Homo sapiens: one gene and its partner. The protein of the gene in region 1 interacts with the protein of each later gene in a pairwise test. Each region holds a gene or a part of one and is shown in the gene's direction. Other genes may lie near its edges.

Region 1 (2,509 bases):
ACTTGAATTTTAGTTTTGTATTCTTAAGTTATTATTTTATTTAGTCTATATAGACAGAAGCTAAAAATTCAATTTGCCCACAATTAGCAGTGAAGGAAACAAAGCAAGCCAACTCTCAATAGAAGACAGATGGCCAATATGCATATGAAGGAATATTTCAACCTAGCTGGTTATAAAAGAAATACAGACACAACAATCATAAAATTGTGTTTTTCACCAATGAAATTGGAAAACACCTTTAAAATAAAGTATCTGTCAAAGGTATACGAAATGGGAATTCTTAATCAAACACATCTGGTGGAAATAGATAATTTGAAAAAAAAAGTAGGTAAATAGAACCATTCTGAAAAACAGTATGGCAATGATATGAAAGGCCTTAAAAATACTGGAAATTAACATTTGCCCCTATAATTCTACCAAATAATTAATTCTGTTTCTGAAATAATCAAAAATATGCACAAAGATTTACATACAGAGGTGCTCTGTTGCCAAAATTATTGTAGAGAAAAGTGGAAAATAACCTCAATGCATAATAATATAAAATTTTAAAGTAACATAGAAGTGCAATTATATAATAAATGCTAAGAAATATTAAAAGTAACACTATCAAATATCCTTTAAAATATAAGATAATTATATATATATATAATATATATGCACACACACAAAGGCAAGTTTCAGAACCTATGCACAATATGATTCCAGTAATGTAATGTAATGATAAACAATGTATACAAAATATTTTGTAGTAAAAAACTAGAATAATAAGCGTTTTTTAAAGTTTTTCCATATTTCTTAATGGCATATTTCTTCATGTTAATGTAATTTTGATCTTCAAAAGCCTCAAAGCTAAAAGAAAGTAAAATTAAGTTCAACTCTTTAAAACAAGAATACTTTATCAGACAAATTGGTATAGATAAAGTGACAGATTAAAAATAAAGCAGCACTGGAGAGCAGGCCCACATATTACAGACTCACTGTCATGCAATATTCCCCAGCAGGGCTGGTGTTGAAAATATAATAACAGAAGGCTTTGGTGATACCTCATAAAGCTTGTGTTCCAGTGACAAATAGCAAGGGTAATCAGTTCAGATTTAGCAACGAACTCAAATAAAAGTTAATTAGGAAAATGGGGACTCTTTACAGAGTCTAAATGTCAAACAAATTAAAGAATAATGGGTACACTAACATAAACAAGAACCAGGAAAGAAGCCTCTTGGCTGGACCAACTCCCAGTGGAGAGGGTACATAAGAGCCCCAGAGAAAGGAGAGATATTCACACCTCAGAAGCCTTATCCTTCTTTTCAATCAAACCCATAAATACCACAGACTCTAATAGCCATGGATTGCTGTGCCTCTCGAGGCTGCAGTGTCCCCACCGGGCCTGCCACCACCATCTGCTCCTCTGACAAATCCTGCCGCTGTGGAGTCTGCCTGCCCAGCACCTGCCCACACACAGTTTGGTTACTGGAGCCCACCTGCTGTGACAACTGTCCCCCACCCTGCCACATTCCTCAGCCCTGCGTGCCCACCTGCTTCCTGCTCAACTCCTGCCAGCCAACTCCAGGCCTGGAGACCCTCAACCTCACCACCTTCACTCAGCCCTGCTGTGAGCCCTGCCTCCCAAGAGGCTGCTAATGGATGGCTACTTTGCTCAGTGCCTGAGATTGAAAAAGTCAACATAGAAGCTTTAGCATTCACCTATCTCAGTACCTACAACTAATGTACTCTGCTTTAGAAATTGGAACAAGGATGGTACTACCACAATCACCCCCTGCAAAAAAAAAGAGACCAAGAAACTTTCAATGACCATTCAGCTATAACCAACTGCAGTTTGAATCAGTGGATGCCTATAGCTTCCTGAAGCTGTTCGATTCCTTCATATTAAAGTGTCTCTTTCTGTGGGTGGTTTGGGAATTCTGTTTTCAGTCTTGGGTGGTATCTTTCTGAAAATTAAGGAAGTTCTTCATGATTATCCTAATAAATTTTACATCTCTGGCATAGCACAAGTGTCTACAATTACTTCTGTTTATTTCTGTTCATTCATTAAATGCGTTTCTTAACTCTGAACATTGGCATTTAAAGAAAAACTGGAAACATTAGTGAAACTGAAAATGGTGGCAGTATGGACAAAAATTTCTTAATTTTGCTGTTCTTGCTGTTTTAAGAAAATTAAACATCCTTGCATGTAAGATGGTCTAGTACATCGGCATATTTGAAAGTAGACTTTTCCTGACTTGTCCTCCCAAAAAATGGTTTCAGACAGGTTGAGAAATACTGAACATTACCCAAACACCAAATATGACAAAATATATAAACTAATCCAGGTGACATGATCTATTTATGAAAAAAATATAATAATGTCATTATTTATTCAACTAAGATTTATTAAATGTCTATTGTGTGTCCTGTGTTTTATTGTCTCTGCTGAAAATAAGCTAACCATCTGGCAGGTGAAGCAAATACAAACACAACATCCATTTGTTTCTTCCTACGGTTAATAATTATC
Region 2 (3,500 bases), about 12 Mb from region 1:
CTATTTAAAAAGAAAATTTCTTTCCAGCATACTTCATACATATCACAAGGTTGTCATGAGAAAAACTTTATGTAGTTAAACAAGATTTTCTTTTCTTTTTTTTTTTTTTTTTTGTTATTAAAACTTGCGGGCGGGAGCACAGTGGCTTCTAAGCCGTTTTTTCATTGTTTGGTGATTTCCAGTATCTGAGTCGCTACATACTAGTAATCTTAGGAAGAATTATTCTTGTTAGCTTTGGTTCAGCTCAGTTTGGAGATTGGATTTTTTGCTATTTCAGATTGCTCATCTTTAATTGAAATCTGAAAAGTTGTGACTAATGGGCCCAAGGATACAAACCTTTGTTTAACCTGTTAGCATATTAAATGATACAGGTAGGTCTTATCCAGAGTTAGGTAAGGAGATAAAGTTATATCTGTTAAAAATGATGAGAAGAGCCTTTATTTAGGAACTTTATGCTTTTCTTTCTTTCTTTCTTTCTTTCTTTTTTTTTTTTTTGAGACACAGCCTTACTCTGTGGCCCAGGCTGGAGTGCAGTGCAGTGGCATGATCTCGGCTCACTGCAACCTCTGCCTCCTGGATTCAAGCGAATCTCCTGTCTCAGCTGGGATTACAGGCATATGCTACCATGCCCAGCTGATTTTTTTTTTCTTTTTTTTAGTAGAGATAGGACTTCACCATGTTGGCCGGACTGGTCTCAAACTCCTGACCTCAAGTGATCCACCTGCCTGGGATCCTAAAGTGCTGGGATTACAGATGTGAGCCACTGTGCCTGGGATTTTTCTGAGGAAAAAAGCTTTTAGAAAACATCCTAAGCAATAATCTCTTTCTTGCTGTTTCATAGTTAAAATTGTGCCACCAAAAATTTGATTTGATTGGCTATCATAGCTTTTCCAGCAGCCAAAAAATTTTTAAAAATGTAACCCTGTGGAATCTAAGAACTCTTAAGAGTTCTAAGAAATCTAAGAGGCCGGTGTGGTGGCTCTCACCTGTAATCCCAGCACTTTGGGAGGCCCAGGCGGGCAGATCACTTGAGGTCAGGAGTTCGAAACCAGCCAGGCCAACGTGGCGGAACTGGGCATCGTGGTGCATGCCTGTAATCCCAGCTACTCTGGAGGCTGAGTCAGGAGAATCTGGGAGGCGGAGGTTGTGGTGAGCTGGGATCACATCACTGCACTTCAACCTGGGCCACAGAGCGAGAATCTGTCTCAAAAAAAGAAAAAAAATAACTGTTATAAGATGTATTCTCTCGTGGTACAAGTTTTGTGCCAGTCTGTTTTAGGAATGATTATGCCTTGAGTATGTTTTCTTGGGTTACTTTAATACAGGAGAAGAAAATGCCTTTATTTGTTCAGTTTTAGTATTTGTACTTTTTTTTCTAATGTAGAATGAGTAAGTCCTGTTGTGAATCTAATAGACTTCTCCATTAATTTATTTTGGAACAATGGTTCTCAGACTTATAAAAATGGCAGTATTCCTATTAGACTCCTCACTTCCTGCTGCCTTAAATGTGTGTGGAGTGTCCTTCTATTGTGTATCTTTCTTTTTTCTTTTTTTTGGAAGTGGAATTTTGCTCTTGTTGCCCAGGCTGGGGTGCAGTGGCCCAATGTGGGCTCACTGCAACCTCTGCCTCCCGGATTCAAGCCATTCTCCTGCCTCAGCCTCCCAAGTAGCTGGGATTACAGGCGTGCACCACCATGCCTGGCCAATTTTGTATTTTTAGTAGAGACGGGGTTTCACCATGTTGGTCAGGCTGGTCCTGAACTCCTGACCTCAAATGATCCACCCACCTTGGCCTCCCAAAGTGCTGGGATTATAGGCATTAGCCACTGCACCCGGCCTGTATATCTGTTTCTAATGACTTGACCTCAAGATGCTTTTATGAACATTTCATAAAAAGGTAGATAACTAATAGCACCATTTTGTTACAGTGGAAAACTATTTGAATCACCTATAATAGAATTGACTTTTTATGGTAGTTGAAGGTTTTTTTTTCTTTTCTTCTTGAAAGAGGGTCTCACTTTGTCACTCAAGCTAGAAGGCAGTTGTGCCATCTCAGTGCATGTTCACTGCAGCCTCGACCTCCTGGGTTCAAGCTATCCTCCTCCCTCAGCTCCCCCAGCTGGGAGTATAGGCACATGCCCCACGCCCAGCTAATTTTTGTATTTGTAGTAGAGACAGGGTTTCTCCATGTTGCCCAGGCTGGTCTTGAACTCCAGCAGTCTGCCTGCCTTGGCCCTCCCAAAGTGCTATGTTTACAGACATGATCCACTGGCAGTTGAAGACTTTTAATTAAACCTGAATACCATAACACTAAAAAATTGGATTCTTTTTATTGTTGTTTTGTTAGTAAATATTTTCTCATTGCATCTTTTGAGTCAAGGCAGTATTACATAGTGATAGGAAACCATGGATTGCAGATAGACTGGCGGTCAGATTTCCAGTTCTGTCACTTTGACTTGGGCAATTTACTTCATCTCTCTTAAAGTCTTTTTATCTAAATGTAAAATGAAGAAAGTATGTTTTATAAAGGTTGGAAACATTGGTACGTAGATATTTTGGTTTCACGTATTAACAATATCCAATATCTGGGAAATGTCAAAATGAAATTTAAGAATACTTTAGAAAAAGTTGACAAGTGTTAGATATTTGTCTGATAGATGCCTTGGAAACTGCTGATAGTGACTACCAGCTATTTATGGTTTTGTAGAAATGAAGTCTTTAATTTCCTTGTAATAATTACTGTTTCAATAAAACTTGATTTTTGCCCAGAGGGCATCTCTGCTCTGAATTGTAAAGAAAATTTTAGGCCGGGCGTGTGGCTCACGCCTGTAATCCTAGCACTTCGGGAGGCCGAGACGGGCGGATCACAAGGTCAGGAGATCGAGACCATCCTGGCTAACATGGTGAAATCCTGTCTCTACTAAAAATACAAAAAGAATTAGCCGAGCGTGGTGGTGGGCGCCTGTAGTCCCAGCTACTCTGGAGGCTGAGGCAGGAGAATGGCGTGAGCCCGGGAGGTGGAGCTTACAGTGAGCGGAGATAGCGCCACTGCACTCCAGCCTGGGCGACAGAGTGAGACTCCGTCTTGAAAAAAGAAAATTTTATAACAGCCTTGTGAGAGTGATGGGTAGATTGATTCTGTTAGATGAGAGGTATTTGGCATACTGCTTAAGAGGTCTTGTCTTCTCTGGCCTCAGACTTTGGTTTGAATCTTCGCTGAGTTCTACCTCTTGCTTTGCTTAGCAGTAGGTTGCATTTCCTAGTCTGTAAAATGGGGCTGACAGGTGTCTTCTCATAGAGATGTGAAATAATATAAAGCTACAGCTCATAGCATAGTGTCTAGCATACAGTAAATAGTTCTTAAATGTTAGGTATTAGTGTAATTTACATGTTGTGATTTTTTTTTTTAATCCTTTTTTTCCCCTCCCCTAGGCTATGGTGAACTAAACGGTAATGCTGGAGAAAGAGAAATATCTTTAAAGAACCTGAGTTCTGATGAA

The links. Proteins that work in one complex are often made in the same cells at the same time.
Region 2: the proteins of KRTAP3-3 (region 1) and NUFIP2 interact in binary tests that used the Homo sapiens proteins (3 or more experiments, as listed by UniProt).

The regions. Positions count from the first base shown.
Region 1 is NC_000017.11:40,992,930-40,995,438, reverse strand, and holds KRTAP3-3 (keratin-associated protein 3-3), read left to right. Parts: upstream 1-1,274; 5' UTR 1,275-1,341; coding exon 1,342-1,638; 3' UTR 1,639-2,009; downstream 2,010-2,509. UniProt on the Homo sapiens protein: In the hair cortex, hair keratin intermediate filaments are embedded in an interfilamentous matrix, consisting of hair keratin-associated proteins (KRTAP), which are essential for the formation of a rigid and resistant hair shaft through their extensive disulfide bond cross-linking with abundant cysteine residues of hair keratins.
Region 2 is NC_000017.11:29,287,649-29,291,148, reverse strand, and holds part of NUFIP2 (FMR1-interacting protein NUFIP2), read left to right. Parts: intron 1-114; exon of another isoform or gene 115-371; intron 372-3,432; coding exon 3,433-3,500. UniProt on the Homo sapiens protein: Binds RNA.